Homo sapiens: one gene and its partner. Each later gene encodes a partner of the first gene's protein in a complex. Each region holds a gene or a part of one and is shown on either strand. Other genes may lie near its edges.

Region 1 (9,963 bases):
TTTTTCTCCAGACTTTTAAAATTTTCCAAATCTGTTGGTTGTGAAAAGATAGCATGCATTAGCATTTAATTTGCATTTCCCTAATTGCTGATGAAATTTGGGATCTTTTTTTGTATGTTCATTGGACCTTTGGGTTTATACTTGTGTGAATTTTCTGTTTATTTCTTTTGCCCATGGGTTGCTCATGGTTTTTTTCCCACTGTTCTCATGCTTAAGAGTCCTAATTTCCTGTAGGTTATGTGCATTGCAAATATCCTTTTACCATCTTTTTTGGCTATGTACTGGTCTTTTAATTTTGTGTTCATAGTATTTTTGTTTTACAAAAGTTTTTAATATTTAGTGTAATTCACTTTATAGCCATTTCCCTAATTTTAAGATAGCTTATATGTTTTCCTTAGAATTTAATTGTATATGGTAGTTTAAATTTTTGTCATTCATTAGGACAATATCCACACATGTGCTTCTCCACTAATATTTTAATAGTATTTTCTGCAGTGAAAAGTAGTGTAAGAAATTGTGCGGTAATGACTTCCAAGGTTATGTTTGCACCTGGGTCCTAACACTCACAATATACATCAGTTGTTACAGCAACACGTGTTCATTCAGTATTGCCCTTTTATTTATTTTTTTGAGACGGAGTCTCTCTCTGTCCCCAGGCTGGAGTGCAGTGGCGCAATCTCAGCTCACTGCAACCTCCACCTCCTGGGTTCAGGTGCCTTCCTCAGCCTCCCGAGTAGCTGGGACTACAGGCGTGCATCACCACACCCAGCTAATTTTTGTATTTTTAGTAGAGATGAGGTTTTATCATGTTGGTCAGGATGGTCTTGATCTCTTGACCTCATGATCTGCCTGCCTTGGCTTCCCAAAGTGCTGGGATTACACAGGCATGAACTACCACGCCTGACCTTATTTTTTTCTTTCACAGATTTGGGGATGTTTTTCCTTTGCTGTATCCCAGGCATACTGTCATATTATTTGTCGACTTTAATGAGAAGTTCCCTGAATATGTATAAAATAGGCAAAGAACATAAAGTAAGCTTGTTTATGAAATTACACACTTTCTAGCAACTATAGAAAAAATACCATAGTTATACTGTTCTGGTTTTAGGAAGCATACAATTGCATTAAAAATATGATCTGTGATTTTTTTTTTTTTAATAGGTTGCTTCAATACCTTTGTAAAAGGATAGTTGTAGGTAAAGTTCAATTTCATAGCAAAAGAAATTATTTTGTTACAGATCTTTAGATAATTCAAGTATGGCTTTTGGGTAGGATCTGTGTTTCATTATACCATTTCTAGAATATCATTGGGATAGTTAATTTTCTTAAATTGTACCCTGTAATTTTCCAAACCATTTCTTCTATTAAAAGTTGAATTTGTCAACCTTTACCATTGTTAACTTAGCCACATTTGCTTACTTTGTGATGCAGAGGAAAGTGAGGAGACTTTGAAAAACACTAAAGAAATCCAAAGAAAAGCAGAAGAAAAATATGAAGTATTGGAAAATAAAATGAAAAATGCAGAAGCTGAAAGAGAGCGAGAACTGAAAGATGCTCAGAAAAAACTGGATTGTGCCAAAACAAAGGCAGATGCATCTAGCAAGAAGATGAAAGAAAAACAACAGGTAATAACTTCTTTTTGAAATTGAACCAACCTTTTAAAGTCAACATAGAGCTGAAGGTGGTAGAGCATCATTGGTTGACCTTATTCATCAGAATTGATCTCAGAATCTAAAAGGGAGCAGTGTTCTTTGGAAACAAATTATGCTTCTTACAAGTCAAAGGAGTATCCAGGATGAGCATCTCAAATCCAAAATACAAATTAGAAACTTTTTGAGTGTTGATCTGAGGCTCAAAGGAAATGTTCATTGGAGCAGATTGGATTTGGGATACTCAGTTACTCTGTATAATGCAAATATTCCAAAATCCAAAAAAAAAATCTGAAGTCTGGAAGACTTCTGGTCCTACACACTTTGGATAAGGGATATTTAATCTGTATTTTTCTCTGAAAACCCTGCAATCGAGTGTTTCATAGTTGTGAGTAGGGGATGCTAATTTTAAGGAAAGGGCAAAGTTGACGGTTGGTAAATGCTTCCTTCAAGAGTGGATGGCCTTTCTTCAGGAGTGGATTATTTGATATTCTGGATGTCATATCAGAGATTCAGCAAGTTGACATTTTTATTTGATAAGCACCTAAATGAATGTGCACTGTGAGAGCATAATGGAAGACAAAGCATGTTATATTTACAAGGTGTCATTCAGTTGTAAACTGATGATACTTTGTTATATCTTTTAGCTAATGCCAAAGCTGGAATCTGAACCTAGGTTTTTGTCTCCAAAGGCTACGTTGTTAATCACTTTTATGCGATTTCACCTAAATATATTTCCCTCGCATTTTTTTTTAGCCCACTCTAAGATTCTTGTCATTAAATAGCTGTAAAAAGTATTTTCTAATGCAGGGGTCCCCAACCCCCCAGGCCACAGACCAGTAACAGAGGAGGTGTGTGACAGGCAAATGAGGATTACTGCCTGAGTTCCACCTTGTGTCAGATCAGCTGTGGCATTAGATTCTCAGAGGAGTGCAGACCCTTTTCTGAACTGTGCATGCAAGGGATCTAGGTTGCATATTCCTTATGAGAATCTAATGCGTGATGATCTGAGATGGGGTGGTTTTATCCTGAAACCATACTCTCTCCCTGTGCCCGCCATATGGAAAAATCATCTTCCACAAATCTGGTCCTCGGTGCCAAAAAGGTTGGGGACTGCTCTTCTAATGAACTGAAGGCTATAGTGGGAAAGAAGAATATTGAGAAACTTTTTACACATTGAACAATTTTGTTTTTAAAAAAGCTTTACTTCCAGTAATTCATCTGTTACGTAGAATGTTATATTATTTTCCCTATAGGAATAAAGGATAAAGAAAATAATTTATGCAGAGTTCTTTGAACCTATAAAAATTACACATACTTTTTTTTTTGATATAGGAAAATAAACTTCCTTTTCTGGGGAAGCAGCTTAACCTGTACTTTCGGTAGCTGAGTGGTAACAAAGCTGTGGGTCTTACTTGCATGAGATTATTATTTATTTAATTGTTCTGTACATATTTGTTTTTCAGTAGTTAATAACCTATATGAATACCTGAATACTGTATTTTTTATAGGAAGTTGAAGCTATCACTCTGGAACTGGAAGAGCTCAAGAGAGAGCATACATCTTACAAACAACAGCTTGAAGCTGTAAATGAAGCTATCAAATCCTATGAAAGTCAGATTGAAGTAATGGCAGCTGAGGTGGCTAAAAATAAGGTAGGATTTATTTATCAAATTCGAGAAATTGAAAATGCGAATCTTTTTATGAAACATTAGCTTAAGATGTTTGACTTTAGTGTTCTCAGTCTTTTCACTCGTCATCATGAGAGAATGAGGCACAAATAGCTTTTACTCATCCAGAATTGCCAGTTTTGGGATCACATAGGTCAGTCAGCTTCTAGCAGTCCCTCTTCTTCCTCACTTAGTTGATTCCATCTACATTACATCTAACAAAAAACGCTCTCATTTGCAGCATGAGCGTGCAGCATGAGCATTGTACCTCCCACCCCTTTTACCAGGGATGATCCAAGTTTTCTTCTGTGTATAAATTGATTAGTCCTTTTAATGGTGATATAAAATATAGAGGGTTAGGTGATCATCTCTCTGCCTGTAATCACATTGCCCTCTTGCCCAGGGATCTGTCAGATAATTGTTTAGTAAATTAAAATTATTTACATGTTACCTCACCACATATTTTCTTTAATTTTTTTGTTTTAGGAGTCAGTAAATAAAGCTCAAGAAGAGGTGACCAAGCAAAAAGAGGTGATAACAGCCCAAGACACTGTAATTAAAGCTAAATATGCAGAAGTGGCAAAACACAAGGAGCAAAACAATGATTCTCAGCTTAAAATTAAGGAATTAGACCACAACATCAGCAAACATAAACGGGAGGCTGAAGATGGTGCTGCAAAGGTATACGTTTGTGTGCATTTTTTATACTAAATCAAATTTTTGTTACTGAGCTCTTGAAAAAATTTAGAAAACTGCTTGATAGAGAACTCTATAAATATAAATGGCAAAATTACAGCCTGGCATAAATTTGAGCTTGCAGCTTTAACTGCTTTTCAACAATGCTAATTTTCAACAAATTGCACAAATGTTTTATTTTTAGATTTAACTTTAGATATTTTTTCCCATCTACAGGATGTATTTACCAAATGTTTAGTGGTCTCCCATGGAAATAACTTTTCACCTCCAAATGTTGATAGAACTAATTACTGATGTGCTAGTAATAATGATATATATTCTCTACCTTATTTCAAATTGAATTAAAAAACTCACAGAACTATATATACAGGTAATCTAAAAAAAGGACTGAATTGGCTTCCACATGTCTTTATGAGTGTTACTGCTGTCAGTATTTGCAACTTTATAAAAAATCTGATGTTTTGCCAAGCAGCTATGTTTTTGAGGTTATCCCAGTTTCTTTCTTTCATGTGTCACAGCACCTTTACTTCAGTGCTTTAAAGATAACACGTGCTTTTGCAGAAATTCATTGCTTGGTTAAGAAGCTGCATTCACATGGTATTAATAATTCATCTAGCATGTTTTCTTATGAGTGTGTAACAGTTTGGCACCTTTTTAATGTCCAGGATATTTTTTTTTAGCATCCTAAAAATACATGAACTTTAACTTCAGAAAGATCAAGAACATACAAAACAATCTCCCTCTCTTCTGAAAGAACTGTGGAACTTGATTTAAACAACATTTTTCATGGCTACATTATAATCTACCACTTTATTACTATTGATTTCCCATTAGCTTAGTGATAGTGGACTGACTGAAATACTACCAATGGCAATGTTACTGCTAATAGTTTTTTGGTAATTGAAAATGCTAGTACTGGCGATTGCTAGGAGATTTTATTTACAAGAGTAAAAGGAGGGACTTGCAAGTGGGTCTGCTAAGAAGTCAATCAAAGATTTATACATACCTACCAGTATCAGATACTGTGCCAGGCACTGACAATGTAAGGATGAGCAACACATACAGGATGCTTTCAAAGAGTTTACAGGTCAAAAGGAAGATACACTAGAAATGATAATTGTACTTTGGGGCCTACAGGTGAGACCATATCCATGGAATTAATACAAGTCAATAAATTAACAAGGATTGGATTCTGCCAGTGAGAATGAATCATAATTCTAGTAGAAGAAAGTCTTCTTTAGGCACTATAATTTGAACTGTATAATCAGTTGTATTACATGAAAAATTATTATACAGTGCCTTTTTCAATATACTGTGCCTTTTTCAAAAGGTGGGGAGCAGGATAGAGTCAATGTTTAGGGCAGTTTCTTAGAATATATTTCTGAGAGAAAAATTATTAGGTCTCAGTCAGCATTAGGCTTCCATGATTTTTACCAAATCTATGACTTAAGTATTAAAAGAGTTTTAGCTTCTCATAAGTTGTGTTTTGAAGCAATAGATTGAATTTGGTAAATTCTGAAGGAGTTCTACCTGACTTACATTTCATTCTAATGGAGGTGCTTTGCGTATACTTCGTAAAAATTTCTCTGTGAGTTGGCTCTTCTAATGCCAAAGTAATAGGAAGATCTTTTGCTATACAGTGTCTTGTTTCTGTAGTCTGTGTTCCAGGTAAAAATATTCATCTTTATTCTTGTCAGTAATGAAACTCATTTTTAAAAATGAGTCGCCTAGGCACGGTGGCTCACGCCTGTAATCCCAGCACTTTGGGAGGCCGAGGTTGGCAGATCACCTGAGGTCGGGAGTTCCAGATCAGCCTGACCAACATGGAGAAACCCCGTCTCTACTAAAAATACAAAATTAGCTGGGCGTGGTGGTACATACCTGTGATCCCAGTTACTCAGGAGGCTGAGGCAGCAGAATCACTTGAACCTGGGAGGTGTAAGTTGCGGTCAGCCAAGATCGCGCCATTGCACTCCAGCTTGGGCAACAAGAGTGAAACTCCATCTCAAAAAAAAAAAAAAAATTAGTCATTGAAGGTTTTTTCCTCTTCAGTATTTGATTCAAAAGTATTAAATAGTTAAGAAACTGGCTTATACATATTGGTTTGTAAACATTCATAGATCTCCCATCTATTTTTATATGTGGCTAGGTATCCAAAATGTTGAAAGATTATGACTGGATTAATGCAGAGAGACACCTCTTTGGCCAACCCAATAGTGCCTATGATTTCAAAACTAACAACCCTAAAGAAGCTGGTCAGAGACTTCAGAAGTTGCAAGAAATGAAGGAGAAACTAGGAAGAAATGTCAATATGAGAGCTATGAATGTATTGACAGAAGCTGAAGAGCGAGTAAGTCAATTTCTTATGAATATCTGGCCGCATTAGAACATGACTAGCATTGACAGCTCTGTATGACCTCTGATGCAATTATTAGAGTTAACCTTTTGCAGATGTCCTTGATACTTTTCTTTCTGCTTTCCTTTTTCTCTTTTCGTCATTTTTTTCTTATTACTCTTATGCATCATTAGTTGTTTTTACATTCTATTACACCTGGAATGACTTTTTCACTGGCTTTTGTTCTTTGTCAAACATAATTCCTCACATTTCTATCATTTCATTTCTTTCACTTGCATTGAAAAGCCTTGAATAGGATATACTTCTGTCATCCTCTTGACTCTACTGTATACTGAAACTATATAAGTAATGACTAAAGCCATTATACACATAAATACTGTTTCACTGATCTGTAAATTCTGCAGCCTCTTCTCAGTTTTAATGCTCTCAATTACTCAATAATGTTATTCTTCCCTAACCTGACAAAACTTTGAGTCTGGGAAGGGAGTTTACTGTCATCTAGTGATGAACTTGGGAGGACCTATCACTAGAAAAACCCAGTGGGGGAAGCATTCCCTACTCTTAAGATAGCCATAAGAAATGGCTATCTTAGTAATTTTATATTAATGCCCCTATTAATGCCCCATACCTTCCTGAATGCTGGAAAATTCTGTTTGAATTTGCAAATCAGAGTAAAATTCATGAGAAATCTGCGACACTGATAATAGCACAGTTACTTTGAAGAAATTTTACCATAATTTTTTTTAACTGTTTTTGGCATGAATATGCACAAAGAGTCTATATTATATTAGATACCAAACAGATGAATCATGCAGGTATTGTGATCTCTCTAGAAAATGCTCCTGCTGGTTTTCATTTCTACATTAAAGCTTTGCAATATGTGATATATTTGTAGAAGGAAAACTTTGGTCTGAATTTGATCTGCATAACATGAAACTTGTTCACTTTTACTCGTTTACTTCTATTAGATGAGACCTGAGTCTAATATTTTTTTCAAAAGAATTTATCAACTCCCATCTCTTTACCAGAGGAGAAGCCTATATTGTTGATCAGCAGATGGCCTTTTTTTTTCTTGTGTTTTGTATCTATCTACATAAGCAATTACATGGATTTTCATGAAAAAATAAGATAAAAATGTAGAGAGAAGGTTAGGGGAGCGTGGCTGTAAAGAAGAGGGACAGCAAGGAAAACAGCAGGACTGACTAGAATTGTTAAAGGTGAATGTGAAGCCTCCTTGAAATGTAGGGCTTTGAGGAGAAATGAATTAGGAAGAGTTTTAGGAAGTCCCATTGCTGTTCATGGTATGATTATCCCTCTACAGCCTTGCTTGAAGGAAGACTACTCTAAAGTGGTGATATTTGAGCTGAAATTTCAGGCAACCGTTATGTCAGAGAAAGAGCATTCCAGGAAGGGAGAATAGTGCAGGGGCCATAAGACAATAGTGAGTTTATTATGTTCAAAGGAGCTGTAAAAGACCATATGGCCAGAACCTGGGGAGGAGTTTAATGCCATAAAGTCAAGGGATAAATAAGGTCCAATTCCCTTTATCCTGATGCATACAGGGCTTAAAACCTGGTTGATTGGTGCAGCAAGCCATCATGGCACATGTATACCTATGTAACAAACCTGCACATTCTGCACATGTATCCCAAAACTTAAAATTAAAAAAAAGTAAGGTCCAATTTATGTGGTTCCTATATATCATGGTGAAGGATCAAAATTTTGTTCATGTCACTGCTAAGGCTGACCTTAAGAGGAGAGCTTTCAGGGCTCCTTTTACTTAAGTTTATATGTAACACTTTTTTTTTTTTTTTTTGCCTTGGCTGCTAAGGAGATAAGGGAATATTAGTGGAGTCAAAATATTTTAAGGACTTTGTCTTATAAATTCTTAGTTCTAGTAATTTAGTTATATACATATGGATGATTTTATTCCTAATTTTGTTAAGAGTGTGTATATGAGTGTGTATATACACACACATCATACAGTATATGTATAGTATATGAGTATATATAATTCTTAGTGCATTATATCTTTTTGGTAAATAGCAATGTATGTATTGTATATAAAAATAATGAAAACTGTTTATTTCTGACCAAATTCCAGAATATAGAAGAGATTTTATATTTTCCCAGTTAACCATGTTTTTTATCTCATAGTACAATGACTTGATGAAGAAGAAGAGAATTGTAGAAAATGACAAATCCAAAATTCTTACAACTATAGAAGACCTTGACCAGAAGAAAAACCAAGCCCTAAATATTGCATGGCAAAAGGTACTTTTTATGTTTGTTTTATATGAGGTTGCAAGGATGAAAAAATATCATCAGTGGAGTTATACTCTATAAGAAATTTGAAATAGCTGATCTATGTTTGAATGAGGCACATATTCACACCTTAATTAAAACCTCTGACTTTTAAATGCATTTTTTTCTTTTTGAACTTGACTACTACCAGATCCTGGCATTCTTGTACTTCTGTAAGAATTGGATAGTAAACAAGCCAAGTTTAGTATTCTCTTTTACAGGATGCTTATTCAACAAAATCCCAATTCCATTTTGTTTTATGACAACTTTGGCAGATCTTAGGCTTCTTTACTGTTACTTCTACTTCCCTGACTTCATGTATCTGTCTCCTATAGGATAATTCCTTAGCCTCTCATGTGGAAGTTTTTCCATTTTTACTATAGCGGAAGATTCTTACTTCAGAGATTCCAAACATAGAGTTACTGTGCTGTTTGGTAGTTTAGCAAACCTGTGCCTTCTGGGTTTTAATGGGGCACCTTGCCTCTTTTTCTCTTTGTAATTCTGTAGGAACTCTATCTTCAGTAATGCAGCACAATTATCCCTTTTAGTCACCTTGTTTTTTTCTTCTCTAAGACTTATTTTCAGTGCTCCATTCCCTGTAATATTTTTCTCTTAAAAATGGAAGCAAAAGGCTGACCCTATTAATTAGTGTGCAGCATGTCGATTTAACACTGGATCTGAGAGGTTTTTTTTTTTTTCTTTTTTCCCACCAGGATTCGTGGACTTAGTACAAATCAGAATCTATTGTCTAAACATATCCTGCTCTTCCCAAATTTCCAAGGTTCTTCCAAAGCCAGTAACATTTATTCAGTGCTTATTATATGCCAGTCACTATTCTCAAATTAATTTTCTCATCTAATCTTCACAATAATCTAACAAAGTAGGTACTGTTATCAGCATTATATTCTTCCTTCTGGCTTCAGGCTTACTTGATTGACAAAGTGACAAAGCCAGAGTATTCTAGGCTTTTTTTGTTTTTGGTTTGTTTTCTTCATAGCCTCATTGGACTTGCAGAATTCTCTTTTATTTCATCTTTATATCGATCTATGAATATAACTCATTTTCTGTGTAGCATAGGGCTGTATTCTTCTCTGTCCATTCTCTTTTGGAGGAAGTTTCACACTGGGTCTCTGGTTCAAGTTTAGTAGCATTCCTCTCTCTTGGTCCTGAGCTGCCTGTCCCACACTTGGCCTAGAACCTGCTTCCACTCTGTAGGATATTATTCAGCAGCCATGTACTTGCTTTTAAAATGTGTGTTACTTAGTAAATCTATATTTAGGATCACTGC
Region 2 (8,750 bases), on another chromosome or scaffold:
ACGTTGCCCAGGCTGGCAAAGGCCAGGCCTGGTGGTGTGTACCTGTAATCCCAGCTACAAATTATAAATAAATTAACCAGGCTACTCAGGAGGCTAATGTGGGAGATCGCTTGAGCCCAGCAGGGTTGAGGCTACAGTGAGAGGCTGCAGTGAGCTGTGATTGCGCTACTGTACTCCAGCCTGGGCAACAGTGAGATTCTGTCTCAAAAACAAACAATCCTTTTCTAATTGACAGGAGAAAATACTAGAATGCTTGGTGGAACATGCACTTATAAAACTATAGTCTCTATTTTTGCTTTAGCAAAATAAAAAGAGAGACACTAAAGTAACATAAGGGAGTCATAGGGCAAACAAGCCACTCTCTAGCCTTCTAAAAACAGCCCAAGCCGGGCACGGTGGCTCAAGCCTGTAATCCCAGCACTTTGGGAGGCCGAGGCAGGCGGATCACGAGGTCAGGAGATTGAGACCATCCTGGCTAACACGGTGAAACCCCGTCTCTACTAAAAATATAAAAAAAAAAATTAGCCGGGCGTGGTGGCGGGCGCCTGTAGTCCCAGCTACTCGGGAGGCTGAGGCAGGAGAATGGCGTGAACCCAGGAGGTGGAGGTTGCAGTGAGCCAAGATCGCACCACTGCACTCCAGCCTGGGCAACAGAGCAAGACTCCGTCTCCAAAAAAAAAATTCAGCCCAATTAGGTAAGAAGTAAATAAATAACAAATAACTTGTGGCTGAGGTTTAAGAATACTTGTTGGCAGCCGAGTGCGGTGGCTCACGCCTGTAATCATGGCACTTTGGGAGGCTGAGATGGGTGGATCACCTGAGGTCAGGAGTTCAAGACCAGCCTGGCCAATATGGTGAAACCCTGTCTCTACTAAAAATAAAAAAATTAGTGCGGTGTGGTGGTGCGCGCCTGTGGTCCCAGCTACTTGGGAGGCTGAGGCACGAGAATTGCTTGAACCTGGGAGGCAGAGGTTGCAGTGAGCCAAGATCGTGTCACTGTACTGCAGCCTGGGCAACAGAGTGAGTGAGACTCCATCTCAAAAAAAAAAAAAAAAAAAAAAAAAAAAAACTTGTTGACGGCTGTAAGGGCTTTTGTTGTTAAGTTCTAGAGTCACAAAAACACTAGGAGAAATCTTTTCTCTAAGATCAGGATTCATACTAGGTTTGAAGATTAAGGTAGTATTAAGCATGTTTGATATTATTAGTTCATGAAATTTAGAATTAGAAAGTCCTTAGAGATCATAAGATCTAATCAATTTCTTATTTTATAGATAATGAAACCGAGGCACAGAAAGTTAAGCAACTTATTCAAGATCATACAACTAGAACTTATTTATAGGTGCTCTTCTTCAATTGAAGGAGGACTCATGTTTGATTATAATACTGTTAACATTTAATTGTTTCAGTAGTTTTTTTAAACATTTATAAAGTAGAAACACATGCTTAATTGTGGACTAGGCCTATGGTCAGACCATTACTACATGAAAACATCTACCATCACCTGGTGGCAGCATATCTGTGTGCAGTTAATTTAAAAGACACATTATGTAAGTTTCTCAAAGGTTAACTCTAAACATAAACAGATCACGAAGAATATCCCATTCTTTTGCCTACTTGTAACTAGCTTTGGCAAGCAGTTGATAGATGCGTCCTTTCACATCTTCAGTTGTCTCTGTATTGGCAATTTGCTCAGGAATCTCCTCCTCTCCCTGGGGAAGCTGTAGAAGCTGCTGCAGGGTAGACTTCAACTCTGGCAGCATGGCTTCCCACTCCTCCTCTGGGTCCAGCACTGCAGCTAAATGAGAGTGTCACTTAGTCTCTTTCACTAGAGTTTCTGACTGCAAGGAGAAGCCTGTCTGGCATTAGGACTCCAAGGCAGTAACTACTTACAAGCTGCTGCAGTTCGCCTCTGGGCCCTCATCTCTTGTAATTTCTGGGTCTCCTTCTGCAGTGGTCCGGCAAGGTCAGCATCACTAAGCTATCAGGTAAAATGAATAGCAGGGTCAGTAAATGACATAATTTCATCCCTGTTTCCATTTAATTCCTTCTCTTTTGGTGGACCAAGTCTACTTACCTTGCAGGAGAAAGGATTATTGGCTAGAAAACTGGCCAGCAGCTGGATGGCATTTTTACATACTAGCACTGACTTGTCTGCCAGACGTCCCACAGCTAAAGCCACCACTGCCTGGAAACGTGTCAGGGGGAGAGCCTGTGTAGGGTAGGAAGAGAAGAATCTGCTCAAGTCCCACATCATCCATTTTGTTCAAGATGATCTTTAAGTATACTCTAAACTGAGCTACCCACTCACTCTAAAAACCCTTTCTACAGAATATAGATTAGGAGTACTCCTTGTAGTGGTAAGACACATTACAGTCCTTAAAGGGAGCCAGATATCCTCGTCCTTGGTAGAGGAAGACTTTTACTACTGATAATAAAAATGTGAATTCTAGACCTCTTTGGGGCAGATATTTATCTTCAACACTGGATTCCTCTTTACACTGGTATATGGAGAGGTACCATATGTTTTTGCCACATAGAAGTTGGTTACCTTCTGCTGGACAATTCGGGTGAAGAGCTGCAAAACACGGCTCCGCACAAAGGAGTTGACATCATGGCCATGGGCTTGTAAAGTATCCAAGAACTGGTCTCTGGTGTCTCGGGCTGCTGCTTCCAGTTGATCGCCACTGAGAACCTGCAGCACCATCTCCGCCATGGCTGCCAGCACAGCATTACGCATCATGTAATTCTAAGAGAGAGAAGCATAGAGGGGTCAAACCTTTAGTCAAGGCGAAGCTTGCTTGTGCTTGGCCATAACTTTTTCCATTAACTGCCTAGGTATTCACTCCCAAGGTCACAGGAGAAAGCTGAATCCCAAAGAGGACTTGTTGCTCAGAGAATGCTAGAACAAGGGCCAAAACCAATTTTTCCTCATAGGGCTCACACAGGAAAGCATGGTAGTAGCTGAATAAAAAAATCACATCCACTCACCAACACACATTTGAAAAGCATTTATTAACTACCCTTCAGCTGAGGTCTCAAAGCCTTTGTTATTGTGGTTGTTTGTTTGTTTTTGAGACGGAGTCTTGCTCTGTTGCCCAGGCTGGAGTGCTGTGGCGCCATCTCGGCTCACTGCAACCTCTGACTCCCGGGTTCAAGTGATTCTCCTGCCTCAGCCTCCCAAGCAGCTGGGATTACAGGTGCCCGCCACCACACCCAGCTAATTTTTGTATTTTTAGTAGAGACAGGATTTCACCATATTGGCCAGGCTGGTCTCAAACTCCTGACCTCGTGATCCACCCTCCTCGGCCTCCCAAAGTGCTGAGATTATAGGCGTGAGCCACCGCGCCCGTCTGTGTGGTTTTTTTTGGTTTTTTTTTTGAGACAGAGTCTCGTTTTGTCACCCAGGTTGGAGTGCAGTGGTGCGATCTCGGCTCACTGTAACCTCCATTTCCCAGGTTCAAGCAACCCTCCCACTTCAGCCTCCCGAGTAGCTAGGATTACAGGTGCGCGCCACCACACCCAGCTAATTTTTTTTTGTATTTTTAGTAGAGATGGGATTTCACCATGTTGGCCAGGCTAGTCTTAAACTCTTGACCTCAAGTGATCCACTCACCTCAGCCTCCCAAAGTGCTGGGATTACAGGCGTGAGCCACCACACCTGGCCTCAAAGTCTTTAATCCTTACTAATAAATATCCCCTCCTTTCCCTCCCACTCTCCTTCAGATGCTTTACTGACAGAAAATGAGACAGAAACATGGAAATCAGCCTTAAGAGTGCCAGCAAGTCCAATACATAATCTAGTGGAGAGCAGGGTTAAGGTTTTGCCAGGCTAAGAACCAGAGAATAGGGTCTTGCACAAAAAGTTAAAGTAAATGAGATGAACAAGTGGACTGTCTTTGTCCTTGACATTCACCTAGGAGTGCCCAACATCAGTATGGGAATCAGCCAGGTTAGCATTCAGGCATAAAAGAGAATTGAGAGAGATGACATGGGTTGATTTGAGAAAGTTCATTGTTTGAGGAAGCAAGGCAAGCCAGCTGGTGGGAAGACGCTTTATCCTGAGGAACAGATGGGACTCAGAATCAAAGCTGAAGGCTAAGCATGGTAGCGCCTGCAATCCCAGCACTTTGGGAGGCTGAGGCAGGAGGGTTGCTTGAGACCAGGAGTTTGAGACTAGCCTGGGCAATATGGCAAGACCCCACCTCTACAAAAACTAAAAAAATTAGCCAGGCATGGTAGTATGTGCCTGAAGTCCCAGCTACTTGGGAGGCTGAGGTGGGAGGATTGCTTGAGCCCAGGAGATCGAGGCTGCAATGAGCTATGATCATGCTCCAGCATGGGTGACAGAGCCAGATCCTACCTCCAAGAAAAAAAAAAAATCAAAGCTGAGTTGCTCTTACTAGACTTAAGCTGCAGAAATGTCATCTCCCTTACCAGAACTGGATAAAAGCAATGTGAATTGAAAGATTAACAGATTAATAAAGAGCTCCTTATTCAACAAACTTGACCTGCTTCTCTACAGAAAGGAAATGTCACAATGATAAATCTAGACAACTTGTCAAAGCTACTTTCTTGTTCTGTTAAGAAACAGCCTTTCAACACTGGACTTAAAATCCCCAGAAAAAGCTCAGTGACCCCTAGTGGACCACCTACTTCTCCATCCAGGTGATCTAGCAAAATGCACATGCTGGACATCAGGATAGCTGGGACACGTTCTGCTAGTTCTGTCAGGAATGCTGCAAAGCCCTTTGTCCCTGAAGGGTCTCGACTCAGCTCTTGGGGACACTTTTGTCCAATCTCTCTACACAGGGAAGAAAACACAGCCATAGCAACATAGATCAATTATTCAGTTCCCAGTAAGGGAAGGTAAGACAGGTATCTAATATCTGAAGGAATCTACTGTTGCACAGATAATGTATTTCCAATCTTTCTTTATTCCCTCCCCAAGGAAAATAAGCATGAGAAACTTCGAGAAGGAAGAGTCACCTTACAATCTCTCCCACTATGCTCTTCATTCCATAGTCAGTTGCCCATAGACTCACGGCTGCAACCAGTACAGGTGCCAGGTGTTCAAAGTGCTGCAGCATCTGGATGATCTTCACTGTAGCACCTGTGGAAGCATTAAACATGAGAAATTATGGGCAATACAAAAAAGGCGGGGCAAAGCGACTGGTAACTTACTGAGCATATGGTTATAACGGGTCAAGGCTACACCAAGCAGGTGTGTTATGGCTTCCCGAGTGGGGCGGTTCTTCTGGTGATTAATGGTGGGATTCTCCAGAAGGCGGTAGCAACAGCCAGTAACCAAACTGAGAAAGGAAGAGTTTGAGATGATGAAAGCAGCTGTCTGAATCCAATTGTATCAGAGCCCTGCCTCATTCATTCTATCCCTACTGCTCCCAAAGTCAGGGTTTTCTTTATTCTAGCCATTACTTTCTATAACAAGTTGCTTTGCTTTGCTGACCCCAGTTAGGTACTCCTTCCTTCAAGATTACCAACTTTCAACCAGTTGTGATGCTGACAAAGAACCTAAATATATCATAAAAATATGATAGAGTTGGCCGGGTGTGGTGGCTCATGCCTGTAATCCCAGCACTTTGGGAGGCCGAGGCAGGTGGATCACGAGGTCAGGCATTCAAGACCAGCTTGGCCAACATAGTGAAACCCTGTCTCTACTAAAAATACAAAAAATTAGCTGGGTGTGGTGGTGGGCGCCTGTAATCCCAGCTACTTGGGAGGCTGAGGCAGGAGAATCCCTTGAACCTGGGAGGTGGAGGTTGCAGTGAGCTGATATCATGCCACTGCACTCCAGGCCAGGCGACATTGCGAGACTCCATCACAAAAAAAAAAAAAAAAAAGACAAAGTCACCAATGACTTCTCATTCCTAAATATAACGACTGATTCAATCTGCATCTCAAGTGGTCTTTCACAGCTGCATGTGATACAGTTAATCACTCACTTTCTCCTTGAAATATATGCTTTATCTCGCTTCCAGGACACAAGAACAAGACTCCTTTCTCAGTTTCTTTGGCTAGTTCCTCCTCAGACTCTTTTTTTTGAGACAGGGTCTGCCTCTGTTGCCCAGGCTGGAGTGCAGTGGTGCAATCACGGCTCACTGCATCCTTGACCTCCTCATAGCTCAGGTGATGCTCCCACCTCAGCCTCCACCATGCCCAGCTAATTTTTCTATTTTTTGTAGAGACACAGTTTCACTATGTTGTCCAGGCTGATCTCAAACTCCTGGGCTCAAGTGATCCTCCTGCCTCAGCCTCCCAAAGTGCTAGGATTATAGGCGTGAGCCATGCACCCGGCATCCTCACTCTTAATGCTGGAGTGCCCTAGGGTACCAGTCCTTGGATTCCTGCTCTTTTAGCTACACTTACTGATTTGGTAATTTCATTCAGTCTCACGGCTCTGAATACTATTATATTCCCAAATGTGTTATCTCTAGCTCAGACCTCTCTCCTGAACTCCAGATCTATATATTCAACGTCCAAATCTGACTTTACGTGGCTAATAAACACCTCAAACTTTGTATGTCCAAAACAGAACATCTGATCTTCCTCCCAAAACACCTATTCACAGCCTTCTCCCTATCTCAGTTACCATTAACTCCAGTCTTCCAAATGCTCAGACCAAAACCCGGGAGAGTCATCCTTGACTGAACTCTCCCTCCCACCTCACACCCAGTCTGTTAGCAAATCCTGTAAGCTCTACCTTAAGGAAAAAGTATAGAATCCAACTACTTCTCCCCATCTCCACTGCCACGCCTTGGTCTAAGAGACCATCATCTCTTGCTTGAGTTATTGGAACAGCCTCTTAACTGGTCTCTTGCTTCCCCTTTCCCTCCATAGTCGATTTCAATACAACAGCTAGGATGGCCCTGTTGAAGTACAAGTCAGGTCACCTCACCTCCCTGCTTGTGGCTCCCCAGTGGCTCCACTTCATTCTGAGGAAATGCCAAAGTCACCATGATGGCCCACAAGAACCTGCGGTCTGGCTCCCCACTGCTCCCATGGCCTCACGGCCTAACCCTCGTACCTGCTCTCAGCTGTCAGCTCTCTGGCCTCCTTGCTATTGCTCGTACGTGCTGGACATGCTCCCTCCTCAAGGTCTTTGCATATGCTATTCCTTTTCCCTGCCCTTGCTATTCCTCCACATATTCTCATAGCTCTCAGTCACCTCCTCTGGGTCTTTGCTCAAATGTCACCATCTCAAAGAAGTCTTACTAGAGTAGCTTGTCTGTCTGTTTGTCTGTCTGTCTATCTATCTATCTATCTTTTTTTTTTTTTTTTTTTTTGGAGATGGAGTCTTGCTCTGTTGCCCAGGCTGGAGTGCAGTGGCGCGATCTCAGGTCACTGCAAGCTCCACCTCCCGGGTTCACGCCATTCTCCTGCCTCAGCCTCCTGAGTAGCTGGGACTAGAGGCGCCCGCCACCATGCCCGGCTAATTTTTTTTTGTATTTTTAGTAGAGACGGGGTTTCACCGTGGTCTCGATCTCCTGACCTCGTGATCCACCTGCCTCAGCCTCCCAAAGTGCTGGGATTACAGGCGTGAGCCACCGCGCCTGGCCCTATCTATTTTTTTTGAGACGGGATTTTGCTCTTGTCGCCCAGGATGGAGTGCAATGGTGCGATCTCAGCTCATTGCAACCTCCCTCTCCCAGGTTCAAGTGATGCTCCTGCCTCAGCCTCCCAAGTAGCTGGCATTACAGGCACACACCACCATGCACAGCTAATTTTCATATTTTTTTAGTAGAGACAAGGTTTCACCATGTTGGCCAGGCCGGTCTTGAACTCCTGACCTCAGGTGATCCACTCGCCTCGGCCTCCCAGAGTGCTGGGATTATAGGCGTGAGCCACCGCACCGGGCCTAGAGTAGCTGATTTAAAATCACAACCTTCTTCCATCAAACTTATTTTACTTATTTTAAAAATAGACTTCTGGCTGGGCGTGGTGGCTCACACCTGTAATCCCAGCACTTTGGGGGGCCAAAGCAGGGAGATCACCTGAGGTTAGGAGTTCAAGACCAGCCTGGCCAACATGGCAAAACCCGTCTCTATTAAAAATACAAAAATCAGCTTGTGGTGGCGGGCACCTGTAATCCCAGCTACTCGGGAGGCTGAGGCAGGAAAATTGCTTGAACCCAGGAGGTAGAGGCTGCAGTGAGCCGAGATTGAACCACTGCGCTCCAGCCTGGGCGACAAGAGTGAAGCTCTGTCCCCCCACAAAAAAAAAACAAAACCAAAAAAACGGCATATCTATCAACAGAGCCTCACTCTCACAGCTCAGTATTATCTGTAGCCATCCTCCCTACCCACCTGACAAATTCTTCTTCAATTATTGAGTGGTTCCACAGGTGACGGATGTCCAACTGAAGTAGCTGTGTTAAAAGCTGAAGAATTGGTTGCCTCTCTTCTTCCCAGTCAAAGCCATGGGCTGCCTTGGTCCGAGCTTTCTTACCCTAAAAAGGATCATGTATACATTGAGGAAAAAATAAGGGAAAAAAGTGGGTCAAGATCTGTCAGTCTGAGTGCCCAAACAATCTAGTACCAAGACAACATAGAAGGTAATACGGAAGAAATATTACAAGTTCCACAGCGCTACTTGTCCAGGAAGAAAACGTGTGACACTTTTGAGTTCTTTCTCCTAAATTCTCAATGAGGACAGAAAGGATTTGTGGATCATTGGATTCCCTTCTTTTCCATCTATTCCCCTATCTCCCCAGACCCCATATAACGTGAGCCCAA

What was found. The genes of interacting proteins can lie anywhere in the genome.
Region 2: SMC2 (region 1) and NCAPD2 share a complex: the UniProt entries of both Homo sapiens proteins name them as parts of the condensin complex.

Annotation. Positions count from the first base shown.
Region 1 is NC_000009.12:104,123,481-104,133,443, forward strand, and holds part of SMC2 (structural maintenance of chromosomes protein 2), read left to right. Parts: intron 1-1,431; coding exon 1,432-1,625; intron 1,626-3,160; coding exon 3,161-3,304; intron 3,305-3,805; coding exon 3,806-4,000; intron 4,001-6,164; coding exon 6,165-6,365; intron 6,366-8,528; coding exon 8,529-8,645; intron 8,646-9,963. UniProt on the Homo sapiens protein: Central component of the condensin complex, a complex required for conversion of interphase chromatin into mitotic-like condense chromosomes.
Region 2 is NC_000012.12:6,510,824-6,519,573, reverse strand, and holds part of NCAPD2 (condensin complex subunit 1), read right to left. Parts: intron 8,465-8,750; coding exon 8,322-8,464; intron 5,310-8,321; coding exon 5,182-5,309; intron 5,111-5,181; coding exon 4,987-5,110; intron 4,802-4,986; coding exon 4,654-4,801; intron 2,747-4,653; coding exon 2,549-2,746; intron 2,210-2,548; coding exon 2,075-2,209; intron 1,979-2,074; coding exon 1,891-1,978; intron 1,796-1,890; coding exon 1,615-1,795; intron 1-1,614. UniProt on the Homo sapiens protein: Regulatory subunit of the condensin complex, a complex required for conversion of interphase chromatin into mitotic-like condense chromosomes.